Regions from separate parts of the Homo sapiens genome. Here region 2 is linked to region 1. The links come from fine-mapping of genetic effects on gene expression. A gene starts in region 1. The other region holds a variant in brackets. All regions are shown on one strand. Distances are between the middles of the regions.

Region 1 (10,555 bases):
CCTACACAAAGCCTGGGCCACTTAATGTGGCATCAAACAGACGCCTCAATAAATCAGTCTAATCTCGAAAAAAAAAAGGCTTAACAGATATACAATTGCACGTTAGAATGCTAAAGACCATAAACATATAACAACTTAAAGTACATATAAATTCAATATATATCCAATCATTGTAACTATGACACAGTAGAATATTAAAATACTATTTTCAAAATGTATACAAGCTTAATGTTCTATGTATTCAAACTGTTTATTCAAAATACAAATCATCAACATAAATTGCCACTAATATTCAGTCCCTTCACAGGACATGATTCACTGGGAGTTAATAAATTAGCAGCCGGCAGGCAGTGACACACCGCAAAAATGAAAACCAAGAGGTGAAATAGTTCTGAAATAAAGGTTTTAAAGCTAACAGAAATCACTGAATTACTAAGTCATTAGCACTAATTTTGAGCCAACTAACTAATTAATATGAGATGATACAATGTCCTATACTTTGGTAAATACAGACTATGTTTAAACAATGTCTGTAACGTGACTTGTAAAATGCTCCTGGCTTTACAAAGATGTGATTAAGATGTAGTAACACATGCTAAACCATTTCCCCCTGCAGAGCATGTGGTAACTTTCATCAGTCACATTGAGAGTCCAGAAGATAAAGGAAAAGGTCATGGATTTCGCTGAGAACTTACCAGAGTTGAACTCCCTCATTTTCCGTTCCCCAGCATTGGCGGGTTCTGGGACTGGTGGCTGTGGTGGCTCGTTGGTCTTTGTCTCTTAGAAGGTGGGGAATAATCATCATCTTGAAAAAGAAAAAATGGTCATTACTGAAGGAACCATCTTAGGTTACAGCCACCTCTGGGTCAATTCCCAACATTCAAAAGCTGAGCAGGGCTTTAAAGCTATCTTATTAATAATTATTTCTGTATTGCGAACTTCAGCATACTTTTTTCTAGTTACATTTGAAATGTTATTCTTTTGGGATGTGCTCAAGTGAGTACTGCTTTTTCCTCTGCCTTGCTTCATTACTTTTTAGTTTCCTTCATTTGAATCATCATTGTAAGTCTCCCCTTCTCCTCAAATAACTTTCAAATTGCTGCCAAGAACTATGTTCTATCTTAAGGCTTTTGAGAAAAAACTTTCAATGAAGATAGCCGCCTAAAGTTATACAAATATAGAAGAAACGGGATAAAATAAAGCTTAGATTGGAAAAAATATTTAAGATTCTACAAAATTCACGCGTAAACAAGGGAAGCTGAGTAATTGTATGTTCAAATACTTGCAAAACATGTAGGCTTAAAGAAATAGAGCTGGCCAGGCATGGTGGTTCACGCCTATAATTCCAACAGTTTGGGAGGCCGAGGCAGGCAGATAACTTGAGGTCAGGAATTCAAGACCAGCCTGGCCAACAGAGTGAAACCCTCTCTCTACTAAAAATACAAAAATTAGGCCAGGAGTGATGGCTCATGCCTGTGATCCCAGCACTTTGAGAGGCCGAGGTGGGTAGATCACCTGAGGTCAGGAGTTTGAGACCAGCCTAACCAACATAGGGAAACCCCGTCTCTACTAAAACTACAACATTAGCCAGGTGTGGTGGCACATGCCTGTAATCCCAGCTACTCGGGAGGCTGAGGCAGGAGAATCCCTTGAACCCAAAAGGCAAAGATTGTGGTGAGCCGAGATTGTGCCATTGCACTCCAGCCTGGGCAAAAACAGCGAAACTCCGTCTCAAAAAAAAAAAAAAAGAAAAAATTAGCCAGGCGTGAAGTTGCGGTGAGCTGAGACTGCACCATTGCACTCCAGCCTGGGTAGCAGAGCAAGACCCTGTCTCAAAAAAAAAAAAAAAAGAGAGAGAGAGAGAAAGAAAGAAAGAGGGCTACATTATTTATGAAACAGGTACTGTTAACTCAGTCACCAGAAAGCCTGTGTATAAATGAGCAGTGAGATATTCAAGCACAGCACACACACACTTCTCAGGACAGCTGTCGTGAGTGTTCCATGCTCATTTCCTTCTGGATACATCAGCAACTCACTCTGCTATGATCCTGCAATACATCTCATGTTAGAATTAGAGACATCTGGGCCAGGCACAGTGGCTGACGCCTGTAATCCTAACACTTTGGGAAGCCGAGGCAGGCAGATCACCTAAGGTCAGGAGTTCGAGACCAGCCTGGCCAACATGGTGAAATGCTGTCTCTACCAAAAATACAAAAAATTAGCTGGGCATGGTGGCGCGCGCCTGTAATCCCAGCTACTCGGGAGCCTGAGGCAGGAGAATCGCTTGAACCCGGGAGGTGGAGGTTGCAGTGAGCCGAGATCTTGCCACTGCACTCCAGCATGGGGGACGGAGCAAGGCTCTGTCAAAAAAAAAAAAAAAAAAAACAGAAAAAGAAAAAGAAAAAAGAATTAGAGACATCTGGATCAAATCAGCTGCCAGTCTCGCAAAGTGTCGGGTAACATCCTATTAAGCTTGCTGCTTACACATCATCTATAAAATACTGAAAATATCATTTTAAGAAATCTTTTTTTTATTTTGAGACAGAGTTTTGCTCATTGCCCAGGCTGGAGTGCAATGGTGCGATCTCAGCTCACTGCAATCTCTGCCCCCTGGGTTCAAGCAATTCTCCTTCCTCAGCCTCCTGAGTAGCTGGGATTACAGGCATGCACCACCACGCCTGGCTAATTTTGTATTTTCAGTTGAGACAGGGTTTCTCCATATTGGTCAGGCTGGTCTCGAACTCCTGACCTCAGGTGATCCACTGACCTTGGCCTCCCAAAGTGCTGGGATTACAGGTGTGAGCCACCATGCCTAGCCAAGAAACCCTTATTTTAAAACAAGCCAGGCGCGGTGGCTCATGCCTATAATCCCAGCACTTTGGGAAGCCAAAGCGGGTGGATCACTTGACGTCAGTAGTTTGAGACCAGCCTGGGCAACATGTTGTAACCCCATCTCTACTAAAAATATATTTTAAAAATTAGCTGGGCATGGTGGTGGGCACCTGTAATCCCAGCTTCTCAGGAGGCTGAGGCAGGAGAACCACTTGAACCTGGGAGGTGGAGGTTGCAGTGAGCGGAGATCACGCCACTGCACTCTAGCCTGGGTGACAATAGAAAGACTCCATCTCAAAAACAAAACAAAACAAAACAAAACAAAAAACCACTAAAAAAAAGACTCCATTTCAAAAACAAAACTAAAACCAAAAACACAACACAAATGTAGTACACAAATGAAAATAATTACTGTGTTAAACACAGTTTCATAGAAAATAAAAGACCAATCAAATACAATAAGCTGCCTTTTTAGATGGGTATGTTATTCTTCTTTCACAGCTAAAGAAACAGGCTCAGAGAATGTTATTTGATTGGACCGTGTTGCATTTCTGGACAGTGCAGCTGAGATCAGACTTTGTGTGTAACTCCACTAGCCTACCAGGGTGCCTCTCATAAAGCTAAGAAATGTAAATTTGGCCTAATATACAAAGTTGCCAGGGCAGCACTGGGTCAATTCTACATACAGTACTTCTATGTTCATCAAGGGAAACCTTAAGGGAAAGTGAAAATGCTTCTAGAAGGCGACTGGACACCAGCGCCTTTGCTTGTTGCCTTTGGGCTCTTCTTCTAAGGCCAACAGTGACCTGAAATTATTGACTGGCTTTTCAATCAAGTGGACAAAATGGTACCAAGGTCGGCAACATCAGACAAATTTACTTGAGGGCCTTATCTATGCGCTTTGAAAGACAAAACTGCTTTTGTAAAGGACACTGTATTTCAGAAAAACATAATCATATTAACAAATAATAACACTGTAAAATGCTGATGTGTTGAATGCTACTTTAGAAAAACATGCTCAAATCTAGGGAAAAAATTTGATACAAAACTACGTATCAATTATCTAGCTAGCTATCTATCTAGAGACATGCTTTCATTCTATTGCTCAGGATGGGAAGCAGTGGGATTATCATAGCTCACTGCAGCCTTGAGCTCCTGGCCTCAAGTGATCCTCCTGCCTCAGTCTCCTAACTAGCTAGGGCCACAGGTGGACACAGTTATGCCTGGGTTTTTGTTTGTTTGTTTTGTAGAGACAGGGTGTCACTACATTGCCCAGGCTGGTGTCAAACTTTGGAGTCTCGCTGTGTCGCCCAGGCTGGGGTGCAGTGGTGTGATCTTGGCCCAGTGCAACCTCTGCCTCCCGGGTTCAAGTAATTCTCCTTTATCAGCCTCCCAGGTAGCTGGGACTACAGGCATGCGCCACCACGGCCAGCTAATTTTTGTATTTTTTGTAGAGACTGGGTTTCACCATGGCCAGGCTGGTCTCCAACTCCTGACCTCAGGTGATCCACCCGCCTCGGCCTCCCAAAGTGTTGGGATTACAGGTGTCAGCCACTGAGCCTGGCGGAGCACTTTATGTTATTAAGTAGCCTAACCCAGGTGGGTCGCTGTCCCTCACGCCTGTAATCCCGACAACTCTGATGGCCAAGGTGAGAAGATTGCTTCAACTCAGGAGTTCGAAACTGGCCCGGGCAACATAGCGAGGCACCCCCCGACCCCATCTCTAGAAAAAAATACAAAAATTAGGCCAGGTGTCCACCGCGCCCGGCTAATTTTTGTATCTTTTGTAGAGACGGGGTTTCGTCATGTTGCCCAGGCTGGTCTCGAACTCCTGAGCCCAAGCCATCCATCCTCCCGCCTCGGCCTCCCAAAGTGCTGGGATTACAGTAGGGCCCAGCCAGCCTCATGTTTTATTTAGCAGTCCCTCCCTGTTGCACACCTGGATAGTTTTTTAAATTTTTTTAGACAGGGTTTACCTCAATCTCGCAGGCTGGAATGCTGTGGTGGGATCATAGCTCACTGGAGCCTTGAACCTTTGGGTTCAAGTAGCTGGGGGGCTGAGGTAGGACTACAGAGATGGGGTTGCGCCATGTTGCTAGGCTGCTCTTGGCCTGAAGGGTCCTCCCGCCTCGGCCGCGCCAGACATAGTTTTCTATTTTTGACCAACATAAACACTGTGCTGGGTCTGAATTTTTCAGCTACCCTTCTTCAGCCGGCAACACACAGAACCTGGCGGGGAGGTCACTCTTACCAGTCCCCACTCTGATGAGAAAACTGCCCAGCTCCAGGCACCATGGCGCCCCAGTGATGTAGCCGAACACCCGCGCCTCTAACGTCGCCAACGGCCCACCTCTATGGTGTCGGCGAAGACCCGCCCTTGTGACGTCACGGAAGGCGCACCCTTGTGACGTCACAGGGGACTACCACTCACGCAGAGCCAATCAGAACTCGCGGTGGGGGCTGCTGGTTCTTCCAGGAGCGCGCATGAGCGGACGCTGCCTACTGGTGGCCGGGCGGGATGTAACCGGCTGCTGAGCTGGCAGTTCTGTGTCGCTAGGCTTCTGCCCGGCCGCCGCCGCACATAAGCCACGAGGAGGAGCTTTACGACTTCCCGGTCTTCGGCGCCGGGCGCAGCAAGGGCCAGACTCTGCGCTAGCAGGCGCTGCGCGCCAACCGGCCGGCACCTGTCGCAGAAGGTGCAACCGATCGCACTGTCGCGCAGAAGCTCCTCAATGGCCAGCGCCAGCTGCAGCCCCGGCCGCCCACTCGCCTCATCTGAGCCTGGGTACGTGCGCTCCACAACGCCTCCCCCAGCCAGGGCCCGGGGATCCCCGGGAGCGTCCCCGGCTACCTGGCGCCGCTCATCCTGGGTAGGGTCGGCCCCCTGAGGCTGCCCGGCATGAGGGAGTTGCACCCCTGAGCTTGACCTCTGACGGTCCTTTGTAATAGCATTAAGTCTTTGAAACTTGTAGCGGGGTAGAAGGGGCTAGGAAATGAAGAAAACATCTTTTTAAAAATATAAGCAGTCGGCTGGGCGAGGTGGCCCACACCTGTAATCCCAGCACTTTGGGAGGTCGAGGCGGGTGGATCACGAGGACAGGAGTTCAAGACCAGCCTGGCCAGCATGGTTTCACTGAAACCCCGTCTCTACTAAAAACACAAAAATTAGTCGGGCGTGGTGGCAGGTGCCTGTAATCCCAGCTACTCGGGAGGCTGAGGCAGAGAATTGTTTGAACCCGGGATGCGGAGGTTGCAGTGAGCGGAGATCGCGCCACTGCACTCCAGCCTGGGCAACAGACCAAGACTCCGTCTAAACAAACAAATATATGTGTGTATATATATGCGATCGAGCCCGGGAGGTTGAGATTACAGTGAGCTGAGATTATATAAGCGATCGAGCACTGGAGGTTGATGTTACAATGCGCTGAGATTGCGCCATTGCACTCCAGCCTGTGTAACAGAGGGAGACTCTGTCTCTAAAAAATTATATGCAAGTGAGAGCTTTTCTTCCAGCACTCATGCTCAGACTGAAGAAAGTAATTGGGCCAGGCCCGGTGGCTCACGCCTTTAATCCCAGCATTTTGGGAGGCGGAGGCGGAAGTGGGTGGATCACTTGAGCTCAGGAATTCCAGACTAGTTTGGGCAACATGGTGGAACCCTTTCTCTACAAAAATACAAAAAATTAGCTGGACATGGTGGCACGCGCTTGTAGTCTCCGCAACTTGCCGGGCTTAGGCGGGAGAATCGCTCAGCTGCAGCCTCGACCTCCAGGGGCAATCCATTTCAGCCTCCCAAAGTGCTGAGATTACAGGAATGAGCCATCGTGCCTGGCTTTACACTATATTTTAACACTTTTTTTGAAAATGGAAACTTTTACAGGCAATTCACTTCCTTCAAACTAATGATAAGGAAGTGATGCTGTTCTGTTCTGTTTTGTTTTTTGTTTTTGTGGGTTTTTTTTCTTTTTTGAGATGGGGTCTTGCCCAGGTTGGAGTGAGGTGGTGCAAACAAGGCTCACTGCAGCCTTGACCTTCGGGCTCAAGGAATCCTTCCCCGTCAGCCTCCCCGGTAGCTAGGACTACAGGTGCATGCTACCACGCTTGGCTAATTCTTTTTTTGAAATGGAGTCTCACTCTGTCTCCCAGGCTGGAGTGCAGTGGTGCAATCTCGGCTCACTGCAGGCTGGTCTCAACCTCTGACTTCGGATGGTCCACCCACTTCTGCATCCCAAAGTGCTGGGATTACAAGTGTGACCCACCGCGCCTGGCGATTTTGCTCATTTTAGATACTAGAACTTTTTAATTTAAAATTTTTTTTTCCTGAGATGGAGTCTTACTTTGTCTCCAGGCTGGAGTGTAGTCGCGTAATCTCGGCTCACTGCAACCTCCACCTCCTGAGTTCAAGCGATTCTCCTGCCTCAGCCTGCCAGAGTTGCTGGGACTACAGGTGTGCACCACCACACCCAGGAGTTCAAGGCTGCAGTGAGCCATGATCGTACCACTGCACTCCAGCCTGGGCAACACAGCGAGACCCTGACTCCACAAATAAATAAATCAACGTCATATGATCTGTACCAGGGTATAGGCAGGTGCTATGATCCCCACTTTTCATCCTCAACTCTAAGTTGAGTCATACATCAACCTCTAGTAAAAAGTGGCATGCTCTCAGTCAAAGGGGTAAGCCCAAACCACGTGGAGAGAATCTTATCTCTTTTGAGAGCTAATATAAAAAGAATTCCTCCTAGGCATAAAAATATTATGACACCAGTTACTTAGGCTAAACATGCCTATTATGCTAAGTGAGTTATTAACAATAAATACTTTAACTCTGTGCCATGTTAATTATCATAATCTGATTTATAATTTGTTTTAACCTTAGGTTATATATACCTTGAAGCCATTTATATTTTGGTATACTTGTAATAATTACTATACACTGGACTATGTATATTGGACTAAACACGGAGAGTCAAAAAAGAGTATGTGGTCAGAGTAGAAATCATGCCCTAGCTTCCTTCGTGTCTACCTCCTACCTTGAGTAGAAGTGGTAGAAAAAGTAATTACCTAAGATTTTTTGGATTCTGGTTTGTGGAGAAGCACCCTTATATTTAGGCTGATGGGCGGCAAAATTAGAAAGTATTTTTTGTGATTTAGAATTTTATACAGAGATGTTCATTGTGATTAATTATTCTTTGTATTAGCAGATTTTTGCTTTTTATAGCTGCATGATTTCTTGTTTATTATTCATTCATTATTGTCTATTAATAAAGAAAAACTTTATTTCACTGAAGCAGTGATATATAATCCAACTTGGATTTTTAAATAATGACTGACTTTTTTTCTTTGGGAATACATTACTGTTAAAAATGTAATTATTAGATACATTACTTTTAATGAATATAAGTGGTATAATTAGAAGGCTGAAAAGAATCCTTGGAAACGTGAGTTTAATTTGATAGCTAAGAAACTGAGGACAAGATACTTATTCTTTGTAGCATATTTTCTAATGTCATTTCATTGTCTCACCAAGAAATACTTGCATAAAGCAAGTTCAATTACAGTATCTGTTGAATATTTAAGGTTGAGTAAAGTGGGTGAGTTTAACAGATATTTTCCCTTATTTCTTTTAGGCAAATCTGGATTGGGAAAGTTGACATTAATCAACTCATTATTCCTCACAGATTTGTATTCTCCAGAGTATCCAGGTCCTTCTCAGAGAATTAAAAAGCCTGTACAGGTCTAGATATTGGTATTTTTAATTGATGATAAGCTGGAATAATATTAATACACACAAAGCACGTGTTGTAACTTTCATTATGCTTCCTTAGAGGTAAGATGCAAATTTGCCCTTAGCCAGTGTAAGATGGTAAATATGACTTCATAAAATCAAAAAAACAGAAGAAGTACAGTTAATCGAAAGATTATCTTGACTAGAACTTTCCAAATTTGTCCTAAGGATTCTCCTAGAGATGACACTGTGACATAGTAACCAATTCCCCTGGAGTTGTGCTATGTAGTATGATAGTCATTTGCCACATGTTTAAATCAATTAAAATTAATTAAATTAAAATGCAATTTCTCATTTGCTCCAGATACATTTCAAGTGCTCAACAGCCACATGTGGCAAGTGGCTGCCATTTTGTGCAGCACATATATGAAGATTTTCATCATTGTAGAAAATTGCATTGGACAGTGTAGAGAAAACATGATTCATAGAAAAACTATTGTTATTTAAATACAGTGTTCTATATTAGTCAGTGGGATAATACCATATCATAGTTGAATGGCAATAGCAATTCTGTAAGACTCCCAAGCTATATGTGATCTAATTTACTGCTTCTCAGTCTTTGCTATGCATTCCAATCCTGGGTATCCTGTTAAATTTATTTCTTCTAGTAGTTCTGAGATGGGCTGCCTTTCTACATTTCTAACAAGATCCCAGGTGATGCTGATGCTGCTGGATGGTAGATCACACTTTATAAAGCAAGGGGCTAGACTCTAGATATGCACTTTTTATTAAATAGTACAGCAGCCTGTAGCCACATGTGGCTATTAATCTTTGAAATGTGGGTAGTCTGAATTGTGATGTTCTGCAAACATAAAATATGCCACAGATTTCTAAGACTGAGCATGGAAAAGAAAATCTCCATAATTTTTTATATTGATTGTATACTGCAGTGATAATATTTTGGATGTATCAGGTTAAATAAAATTGACTGATTTCACCTTTTTCCTATTTTAAAAGTGGCTACTAAGAAAATTTTAAATTACTTACATGACCGACATGGTATTTTTATTTGGCAGCGCTGCTCTAAGCTGTTGATGAAAAATATTGTTGGTGAGCTCTGCTTAGGTAATATATAGGACATGAGCAGAGAGGAGGCACGTGAACAGTTCTGGCCTGGAGTAGGCTTCATTGAGGCTGTGATGCTTTTAGCTGGATTTGAAGAAGTGGTAGTGATCATCCCAGTGCACAGGATAGGTGGACAGTCTATGTATTCTGAGCAGTAACTCATATATCTCATACTGCAAGACCCCAAAGGAGTAATTTTGTGAAGTAAATATCTTATTTCTCCTTTTTAATGTTTCTATTTTAGGAATTTTTTTTTTTTTTAGTAACCTTCATAGGGCTTGAGATTTAAAATTACCTGCAAAATTCTACTCTAAAAACTTGATCCTACATGCTTATTTTGTGATAAATATTGGAAATTTTAAACCTAAGCAAGAAAATGAACTTTGAACTTTCTTAATTTGGGTATCTATTATGAATACCTTCACTTAAGTATTTATGAATTTAGATATGAAAGGTAAAACTAACCACTATCCAAATTAATATACAGTTCATTTCCAGAACCCTAGTTTCTTCCATGTGCTCACTTGCATTCAGTATTACAACCCCCAAAGATAAACACCTTACTGACTGCCTTCTCCATAAATTTGCCTGTTCTTGAATGTTATATACGTATACTTTTTTGTATCTGTTTTCTTTCAGTGAAGATTATGTCTGTATTATTTACTCATGTTGGGTGTAGTTGTTTTTTTCATCGTCGTATAATACTCCATTGTGTGAATGTATCAGTATATCCTTTATTATTTATTTAAACTGACTTAAATGTTTTTTGACACTTTGGTTATATTTAAGAAGTTGACTTCTCTAATTTCCTTGTCATGTTTATTTTTAAATATCTTTCTCTTTAAAAGTTGGGATACTATAATAAATATTC
Region 2 (10,555 bases), 790 kb after region 1:
CCAGCTGCACGGCCAGACGAGACCCAGGAAAGTGTCAGATGCACTTGCGTTTCACAGGACAACAGTCACATTAACATTTAGAGCTACACGTTTACTTGCTTTTGAAGACAAGTGGTTTTGCAGTTCATAACACAAAAAGCTGGTAAACCTTCACTAACTTACATGTACACAGGATGAACTTTCTGTAGGATCCTGTGAGACTCCCACACACCTTCTCATGTGGCTGAATGGGCTTCCCTGGAGCGGGGGAACTGTCCAGGCCGGTGTCTGCCACCCCAGCCCTCCTTTCACAACGGCCTCTCCCTCCTCCTCTACCCTCTGGGCCAGCGGCTGTTGCCTGGACCCCCTCACTGGGCTGAGTGACACTTCACTAGGTCAGACTGGCCATTCACTAACTTAGAAACAGAAGTCACTTGTCTTCTCCCCAAAGGCACTCCAAGCAAGCTTGGGATGGCTTAACCAGACTCCTTTCAATCAAAAATGAAAAAATCCTGCAAGAAAGCTCAACTATGGAAAGTGGCTTCAGTGTAAAATGAAAAAAAATAGAGAAGCCTCTGCACGTGACCCTGGGAGCCAGGCTCAAGCCCCTCGGCAGGACACCCAGCGCAAAGCTGCTCTACTCCACGTGCCACTGAGGCTGAGCGAGGAAAAGTCATGGCAAAGAAACCTGGGACTTAGAAATAGTTCCACGCATGCTCAGCGAAAGAACAAAAGGCTGCATATGAACTGGACAGTGTGGAATGAGCAGACCTGTAGCACGGGAAGCAGCTAAACTGGACGGTGTGGAACGGGCGGACCTGTAGCACGGGAAGCTGCTACAGGCACTGGGAGGAGAATGGGCAGCAGCAAACGGCCTTGGGAGACGAAAAGCGTCTCAAAACCAATTGTGGTGACGGCTGCAACTCCATGAATGTCCTGAAACCCACAGAACTGGACACGCGACTCAGGGAAGTGCATGATTTGTACATTTTATCTCAATAAAAACAATTCTTGATAAAACGGTCAGTCCACCCAAGGAAAGAACCTACACAGTAGAGTTCCCATTTGTCTACAAAGGTCAGGGGAGCTTAGATCCCCGTCCCTGGTCCAGGTATATACACTACTACTATTATTACTACCCTGGCTGGAGTCCAACAGCACAATCTCAGCTCGCTGCAGCCTCTGCCTCCTGGGTTCAAGTGACCCTCCCGCCTCAGCCACCTGAGCAGCTGGGATTACAGGCACACGCCACCACACCCAGCTACTTTTTGTATTTTATTTTTGGAGACAGTTTCATTCTGGTTGCCCAGGCTGGAGTGCAATGGTGCAACTTCGGCTCACGGCAACCTCCATCTCCCAGGTTCAAGTGATTCTCCTGCCTCAGCCTCATGAGTAGCTAGGATCAGGCATGCACCACGATGGCCGGCTAATTTTTTATTTTTAGTAGAGACGGGGGTTTCTCCATTTTGGTCAGGCTGCTCCCAAACTCTCGACCTTGGGTGATCCGCCCACCTCGGCCTCCCAAAGTGCTGGGATTACAGGCATGTGCCACCATGCCTAGCGTTTTGTACTTTTAGTAGAGACAGGGTTTTACCCTGTTGGCCAGGTTGGTCTCAAACTCAACTCGGGTGATCCACCTGCCTCGGTCTCCCAGTATTGGGATTACAGGTGTGAGCCACTGCATCCAGCCCCATGTATGTATACTATTAATTCCCAAAAGAAAATGTGGATGAAACTTTTTTAACAAGAGTCTTGTTCTCTTCCTCAGGCTGGAGCACAATGGCGCAATCACAGCTCAGTGAAGCCTCCTGCCTCAGCTTCCCGAGTAGCTGTGCCACCACACCCACCACATCTGTGTGTTTTTTGTAGAGATAGAGGCTTGCTATGCTGCCCAGGCTGGCCTCCGGCTCCTGGGCTCAACTGAGCCTCCTGCCTCGGTCTCCCCAGGCTGGAACTGCAGGCGTGGCTCGTCTAACTTTACCGAAGGCTCGCATCCCAGTGCTGCAAACCTAGACTCGTACCCTGACAATCCCCAAGGGAGGTTTCAGAGGCACAGGCAGCAAGTCCCTCAACCCCTCAGGCTCACTTCTGGCTTGTGGGGGAAAAGACCAAAATCAGCCATCTAGAGCCAAATACAGTCTCTAACTTATTATGGCTCAATGCAGGATTTTTTCACTTTAGCATGGGGTTACCAGCAGGCAACCTCACAGAAAGTCAAGGAGATTTTGTATTTAAGAAATGAAAGCTGAGAATAGTGGCTCACGCCTCTAATCCAAGTACTCTGGAAGGCCAACATGTGAGGATCACTTGAGGCCAGGAGTTCGAGACAAACCTGGATAACACAGCAAGACCCATATCTAAAAAAATAATAATAATAAATTAAGTATTTCAATACTAATAGGACAACTGGCCAAAATTTATTGAAGGCTTTAAAACACTGTCTCGGGCTCAGTGTGTGCATGTCCTAATTTATTTAATTATCAGAAATTCTGCGAGGTGGGCATGCACAGAGAAACCTAAGCCCTGGCCACATGGCAAGTAGGCAGATGGCAGTGGTGGGGTCCCCCTCGACCCCGGCCCTGCCTCTGAACAAGCAGCATTTTCCTCCCAAGTCACACTGTCCTTCCTTTTTTATTTTTTTGAGACAGAGTCTCACTCTGTCACCCAGGCTGGAGTGCCGTAGCGCGATCTCGGCTCACTGCAGGCTCTGCCTCCCAGGTTCAAGCAACTCTCCTGCCTCAGCCTCCCAAGTAGCTGGGACTACAGGCGTGCACCACCATGCCCGGCTAATTTTTGTATTTTTAGTAGAAATGGGGTTTCACTATGTTGGCCAGGCTGGTCTCTAACTTCTGACCTCATGATCCACCCACCTCGGCCTCCCAAAGTGCTGGGATTACAGGCCTGAGTCACCGCGCCGGCCCGTCCTTTGTCTTGACGCTGTGAACACTCGACCAAGTGCTGCGTCTTATCTTTGGGCCGCATCTTGAACCCCGTCTTGCTTCCACTGCAGTTTACGGCGATGACTTCTGCCAACGCACCGGCTGCTGTGGGGCAGATTTGCTTTCGGGCTCTCACTTGTAACAGTCACTTCCCGCGGCCCCCCTGCACCCATCACTAACCAGGAAACGTTATCGGGGTCCTCCCGACCTGCACATCTCAACACCCCTGAGGCCCCACCCGGCATCGTGCCAGTGTCCACAGGGAACTGCCTGGGGACTTCACTCCTCTCCAGGCCAAGGGCATCATGTGCAAGAGCTTTAGCTAAGTGGCAGGCTTCCCATTCTGCACCTTCTGCCCCCACCTAGGGGGCAAAGACGCCCCCCGAGTGAAATAAGGTAATGAAGGCACGCTCCTCCTAGAGCCTCCTGAGGGGCCACCACAGGCAATGCCTTTCCCACACGAGGTCCCCAAAGCAGAGCCCGTGGCTGACAGTGTCCCAGCGCCACCCCTGCTGCCACTCCTTCCCCCCACCACACACCAAGAGCACACACACGCACGCGGGGTTCTTCTGGGCCGATGCTTCCTGGGAGATCACCAACCCCTACAGTCCCTCTGTAAAGGAGGAGCTTCCGAATTCTGGGACACTGGGCTCAGCTCCTTCTTTTAGAATGACCAGAGACAGGCTCATCCTCTGCCTATACCAAGTCCTTCCGGATGAGACTGCTGAAGCTGGACTCAGTCCTTGCAGAACGTGGCAAGTACTTCCCAGGTCTGGAACCCAGGAGGTCACAGTGGGCTGACATGAAGGGGCTGAGCTTACACCAATCAAGGGAGTGTGAGGATGTGCGTCACTCTCTGCTTTTCTTTCTCTTACTGAATATACAAGAACTTAAAAATAAACAGTGCTAACTGAAGAGTAATTGTCAAAAACAGGATGTCAGGCTAAGCTTCATGGCACAGAGTTTAATGTGAATCATGAGATGAGACAAAAGCCTCCTCCAGGGCGATGGGAAGACCCAGCCCCAAACCAGACTCTTGAGCA[C/T]GCAGCCCTAAACCAGACTCCGGGAAGGGGCTGCGTGGTCATGCACCGCCTAAGACTCAGAGGTGAAGATGGGAAGACCCAGCCCTAAACCAGACTCCTGGAAGGGGCTGCGTGGTCACGCATCGCCTAAGACTCAGAGGTGAAGATGGGAAGACCCAGCCCTAAACCAGACTCTTGGAATAGGCTCTGTGGCCACCCATCGCCGTAAGGCTCCGGGATGGAGACAGCATGGACAGGGACCTCGCACAAAGGCATGTCGGGAGGGCCTCCTTTCCAAGGCACAGCCCCACCTGCTCCTTCTCAGCCCACGACGGGAGCAGAGCCATGTCGAAGCCGTGCCCCACACAGGGTGGACAAGGACATGGCCTGACAGCTCCTCAGAAATCCTTAGAGATTTTTCCAAACGCAGGTTACCAGGGCTTCTGCAGAGAGAGGGGCAGCAGGACGTGCTGCTGACAGTCCCTGGGGACTTACACTGACTTGCAGTGAGAGCCCACATCTGCCACCAGGATGGCTCCCAGCACCACCGCGTCACAAGCACCACACTCTCCACCGTGGGACGCCCAGATGGCTCGGCAGGCAGGCCGGGCTGGGGAGCTGACAGCAGACGCCTGGGACTCTGCCCAGCGTCCTCACCCACAACCTTTTAACTGTAACTGGCAGAGGAGACAGCAGGGAGGGCAGAAGGTACAGTGATGGCTAGGATGCAGTTCTAGGTTTTGCCAGACATACTTTCAGGGGCCACTCCTGGCTACCTAATTAATCTACCTGTGTATAAGAATTTTTTAGCTTATTAAATATTCCAAGAGGCCAGGCATGGTGGCTCACGCCTGTAATCCCAACACTCTGAGAGGCCGAGGCAGCTGGATCACGAGGTCAAGAGTTCAAGACCAGTTTGGTCAAGATGGTGAAACCCCCGTCTCTACTAAAAATACAAAAATTAGCCAGGCATGACAGCGGATGCCTGTAATCCCAGCTATTCGGGAGGCTGAGGCAGAGAATCGCTTGAACTTGGGAGGGGGAGGTTGCAGTGAGCTGAGATCAAGCCGCTACACTCCACCTTGGGCAACAGGGTGAGACTCTGACTCCATCTCAAAAAAAAAAAAAAAAAAAAATACAAGAGTAGGGCTGAGCATGGTGGCTCACGCCTGTAATCCCAGCACTTTGGGAGGACGAGGAGGGTGGATCACCTGAAGTCAGGAGTTTAAGACCAGCCTGGCCAACATGGTGAAACCCTGTGACTACTAAAAATACAAAAATTAGCCAGGTGTGGTGGCGCGTGCCTGTAATCCCAGCTACCCAGGAGGCTGAAGCAGGAGAATCACTGGAACCCGGGAGGTGGATGTTGCAGTGAGTCTGCAGTGAGCCAAGATCTCGCCACTGCACTCCAGCCGGGGTGACACAGTGAGACTCTGCTGGGAAAGGGCGGGGATGGCAAGAGTGCCAATACATAGACAATGCTGGGCAAGGCCAGAGATGCTGGTCAAGGGCGGGGATGTCGGGAGAGGGCGGGGATGGCAACAGTGCCAACACGAAGATAAAAGGTTTAGCATTTGACACCTATTCTCTTTTCATTTGGAATACGTTTGGCCTGGCCTCCGTTCTGAAAACTACAAATCACTCACTATAACAAAATAAGATCCAGAAACTTTCCATTAGCGTGGGGGTGACCATGAAATGCCTGGTCAAAAACCCGGGCACTGATTGTCATAACCATTATGCAACTGGTGTTGCGTCCATCAGAATCTAGTTTAAGAATACTCTTCTCTCTATAGGAGTCTTCGCGGCAGACCTAGCCTGCTCTGTGTCCTCCTGAAATGAAGGAATGTTCTCTCCCATTATTTCTTCTAACAGCTTGGTTAGCAAGCTCCGCCCTCTTCTTTATCTGACCTTCTAACGACCTCACCAGATGTGTGAAGCAGCCCGGCTCCATGTGTATCAGGCACGCACGCACACACGCACGCACACCAACCTGCAAAGGAAATAACGGGGCAGCCCTGCAGTGTGAAAAGCAATGGGATTTTGTGGGTTCCACCTCCTCACCTAAGCATCCCTGGTCTACGCTATGTCACGACCCTCTGCTGAACCACGTCAGGGTGAACCCCACACCGTGTCTGTGCGCCTCACCACGCCTACTGCCATGGGTGGCACTGGAACTAACCCGTGGACGATCCGACGTGCACCAGGAATAGAAACCAAGCTCTCGCAAAGACAGAGGAGCCAGTGTGTGCACTGCACAGGGTGACACGCCTCCTGTGCCCGAGCCACACGTAACACCTTCCAGGGAGGACCACACGGGGGGTTTTTAAAGGGCAACCCGCTGGGATACAGTTCTTTGTCTTTCCTAAGAAGATCATTGTACATCTGGTCATATGTGGTTTTGAAATCATAAACATTGGGCTTGTCGGGAGCTGGTCCTGGAAGCTTCACGTGAGTCCCTGTTCCAAAGGATCGGACGCTGAATCCCCGTTTGCTGAAAGACAAAAGGAGAGAAAGAATCACAGTCACACTAAGACACAAAATTCCAAAAGCAAGGGACAGCAAATGGGATAGAAACAAAATGAGTAATTTCATTGGCTCATAGTAGAGAATATGTCTTCAAATTTTTAATCTAGGCCGGGCATGGTGGCTCGCGCCTGTAATCCCAGCACTTTGGGAGGCCAAGGCAGGCGGATCATGAAGGCAGGCGGATCATGAAGGCAGGCGGATCATGAAGGCAGGAGATCAAGACCATCCTGGCTAACACGGTGAAAACCCGTCTCTACTAAAAATACAAAAAATTAGCCGGGCGCGGTGGCGGGCACCTGTAGTCCCAGCTACTCGGGAGGCTGAGGCAGGAGAATGGCGTGAACCCGGGAGGCGGAGCTTGCAGTGAGCAGAGATAGCACCACTGCACTCCAGCCTGGGCGACAGGCTGTAGCAAGTTACACAAAAGCAATCAAACCAGAACTGACCATCACAAAGCCACATCTGAACATCATAGCTTGTTTAAGGCTTTACTTTAAACTGAAAGGACTGACTGATGTGGACTTGGGGAAGATTTCATCAGAACATTTTGGCCATCGACCAACGTCCTGGCTTTGGAGGATCCAAGTTCACAGGATTCCTAAGGGACTCACAAAGGTCCAACTGCCCGCTCCACCACAGGAAACTCTGTCTCCCCCAGTTTCCCAACACCCCCACGATGTGGCTCCATGGGAACCGAGACCCAACACCCAAAGGAGTCCCACAGGCTCAGGGTTGCTGCAGGCAGAGAACAGATGCCGCGATGGGTCCGACGGTGCTTGTTCCTTGGACTTCCTAGTCACAGGTGAGGAAACTGACCAAATACTTTTCCTAATCAACTGGAGAAAAGAGCTGAACAGGAAACGTGTGTCATGTGCCACCAATGAGCTCTAGTTCACGCAAGGAGAAAGAGAGGTCGTCTCCAAACACTGATGGAGTGTGGTAAGACCAGAAAATTCTTCTGTCATCGCTGACAAGCACACTTAAGTTTGTCACAACAAGTTACATGTAAAAAAGTTACTTTGGCACCGAGTGCGGTGGCTCACACCTTCAATCCAGGCACTTTGGGAGGCCGAGACAAATGGATCACCTGAGGCTGGGAGTTTCAGACTAGCCTGGCCAGGAGGCGAAACCCCAGCTCCGTTTCTACTAAAAAAAAAAAAAAAATTAGCTGGGCATGGTGGTGCGTGCCTGTAATCCCAGCTACTTGGGAGGCTGAAGCATGAGAATCGCTTGAACCCAGCAGGCACAAGTTGCAGACATTGGAGATCTCACCACTGCACTCCAGCCTGGGCAAAAGAGCGAGACTCTGTCCCAAAAAAACAACAAAAAAAGTTACTTTGGTATAGAACATGTGTTCTTGTAAAGTCACAACTGATACTTATAATTACCTAAAAAATATAGACTTCTCAACCTAGCTTTATTTATAAATCACAAAAGGTTTGCATCTGAAGGAATCTGCCTGGCTCAGGGCGCAGGGCGCACATACACTTCCATTAACACTAAACTCCTCTTACAGGCCTGTCATTCTTGTTCAGAAAAGTGCTGCTGCTTCGCTCTTGAGCAAGAATGACACACAGACACGTGAGGAGTTCCATATTATTTTAAAAAAAGAAAAGTAAGGCCGGGTGCGGTGGCTCACGCCTGTAGTTCCAGCAATTTGGGAGGCCGAGGTGGGCAGATCATGAGGTCAGGAGATCAAGACCAGCCTGGCTAACATGGTGAAACCCCATCTCTACTAAAAATACAAAAAATTAGGCGGGCGAGGCGGCGGGCGCTTTTATAGTCCCAGCTACTCGGGAGGCTGAGGCAGGAGAATGACTTGAATCCGGGAGGCAGAGGTTGCAGTGAGCTGAGATCGCGCCACTGCACTCCAGCCTGGGCGACAAGAGCGAGACCCTGTCTCAAAAAAAAAAAAAAATTACTGAATGTTGAATGAGTAACAGTGTCACAAGAGAGGAAAAACTCAGGCAGAGGGGGCTGCTGGAGTGTAACCAGTCTCTATGCGGATAATGGGGCAACACCCAGCAAGTGAAAACTACCTGTGCCTTTCTCACAGACACTGGCTTCTAGAAACCCGCCCTACGGACATACACGTGCCTCTGCAACATGGCTGCCTGCAGGATGCCCACTGCCGGCCTTCCACAGCCACAAAAGAACAGACAAGTAGAATAATCCATCCATGGGGCAGGACAGGCCATGCGGCTCCACGCGCACCTCCGAAGATGAGTAGAGGAAGCAAAAGAGCCCAAGGGCACCCTGCTGCGCCACCACACACGTCACCCACACACACAGAGAAGATGTGCTCATCTAGTGTACGTGAAACACCTGAGTCCCCTGAGGCTGATGACAGCTGCGTCAGTCCTTACATCCCTAGATATTCCGAGCTACACAACCCGGCTCTCCAAACATCTACCACACACGGCCAGAAATGTGGCACAATAGCAGCGATTCATGACTACAAACCCGTGTTCACGGCACCCGGACTGTGAAATAAACGTGAAAATGCTAAAATTAAAATTCCTGACATTCAGTCATAACCACAGATCCTGACGGAAACATGAGGTTAAAGCAATAAAGTCAACTGTTGGTTGTGACTGAGAGGGTGACGGAGGCCCAGACACAAGGCATACCACAGGGAGCACACGTGAGAAACAACAAGCCTAAAATGACTTCCTTACCAATTCAGACAACATACAATAAAATATGTTCCGTCAAAGCACAAACAAGGGCCGGACGCGGTGGCTCACTTGAGGTCAGGAGTTCGACAACAGCCTGGCCAACATGGTGAAACCCTATCTCTACTAAAAATACAAAAATTAGTCATGGTGGCACACGCCTGTAATCCCAGCTATTCGGGAGGCTGAGGCAGGAGAATTGCGTGAACCCCGGAAGCGGAGGTTGCAGTGAGCCGAGATCGCGCCATTGCACTCCAGCCTGGGAAACAGAGCGATACTCTGTTTCAAAAAAAAAAAAAAAAATCGCACAAAGAAGCCCAGGATCAGCGTGATCACAGCAGCCAAAGGAGACAGCCTGCCTCCCAACACCAACAAGAACTCACCACCTGCTGGACGTTCCTTTAAGTTAGCCTATTTAAAAACAAAATGCAGTTTGTTTTTCCCCCAACAAAAGGTTCACGAATGGCAAAAAGGCTATTTAGCAACAGAAGCAGTATTTCTCCCAAACTGATGCAACCGACAGGGCAGCCAGCTTGCGACTCAACAGCGTTTCTTACATAAAAGCAAGGACAGCTTGGAAAACACTCCTGACACCAACAGGCTTCGCCTGAAGGGCCAACGCCTTTGTAAACTAATCTTCCAGACAAGTATTTGTCTGGTATGCCAAACAACTGTCTTTACAAGTACCAAAAATCTATCAGAGGGCTTGTAATCCCAGCACTTTGGGAGACCAAGCAGGTGGATCACTTCAGCTCAGGAGTTTGAGACCAGCCTGGCCAACATGACAAAACCCCGTCTCTACTTTAAAAAAAAAATAAAAAAATAAAAAAAGCCAGGCGTGGTGGTGCGCGCCTGTAATCCCAGTTACTCCGGAGGCTGAGGCTGGAGAATCGCTTGAACCCGGGAGGTGGAGGTCGCAGTGGGCCCCGTGATGGTGCCACTGCACTCCCGCCTGGGTGACAAAGTGAGACTCTGTCTCAAAAAAACTCCAAAAAACTATCATAAAGAAGCCATCAGGCGGGGCATGGTGGCTCACGCCTGTAATCCCAACACTTTGGGAGGCGGAGGAGGACGGATCACTTGAGGTCGGGAGTTTGAGACTAGCCTGACCAACATGGAGAAACCCCGTCTCTACTAAAAATACAAAACTAGCCAGGCGTGGTGGCTCATGCCTGTAATCCCAGCTACTTGGGAGGCCAGGAGTTCAATACCAGCCTGGGCAACACAGTAAGACCCTGTCTGTAAAAATAAATAAATAAATAAGGCCAGGCACGGTGGCTCACGCCTGTAATCCCAGCACTTTGGGAAGCCAAGGCAGGCAGATCACCTGAGGTCAGGAGGTTGAGACCAGCCTGGCCAACATGGTGAAACCCCGTCTCTACTAAAAATACAAAAAAATTAGCTGGACATG

Evidence for each region.
Region 2: its variant is fine-mapped to the expression of LINC01409 in uterus (GTEx, PIP 0.98).

What each region holds. Positions count from the first base shown.
Region 1 is chr1:773,476-784,030 of GRCh38, forward strand. LINC01409 (long intergenic non-protein coding RNA 1409) reads left to right here and starts at 5,323. Exons shown (of 6, transcript NR_187359.1): 1 at 5,323-5,617; 2 at 8,462-8,661. It overlaps LOC100288069 (a long non-coding RNA gene), which reads right to left and starts at 5,159. Exons shown (of 20, transcript NR_168328.1): 1 at 4,809-5,159; 2 at 696-805. RefSeq lists an enhancer at 4,876-5,445.
Region 2 is chr1:1,558,483-1,569,037 of GRCh38, forward strand. SSU72 (SSU72 homolog, RNA polymerase II CTD phosphatase) reads right to left here. Exons shown (of 5, transcript NM_014188.3): 2 at 6,291-6,434. Among named protein-coding and RNA genes, the nearest start is that of SSU72, 11 kb to the right of the region's middle. The variant C/T (reference allele first, on the strand shown) is at 3,962.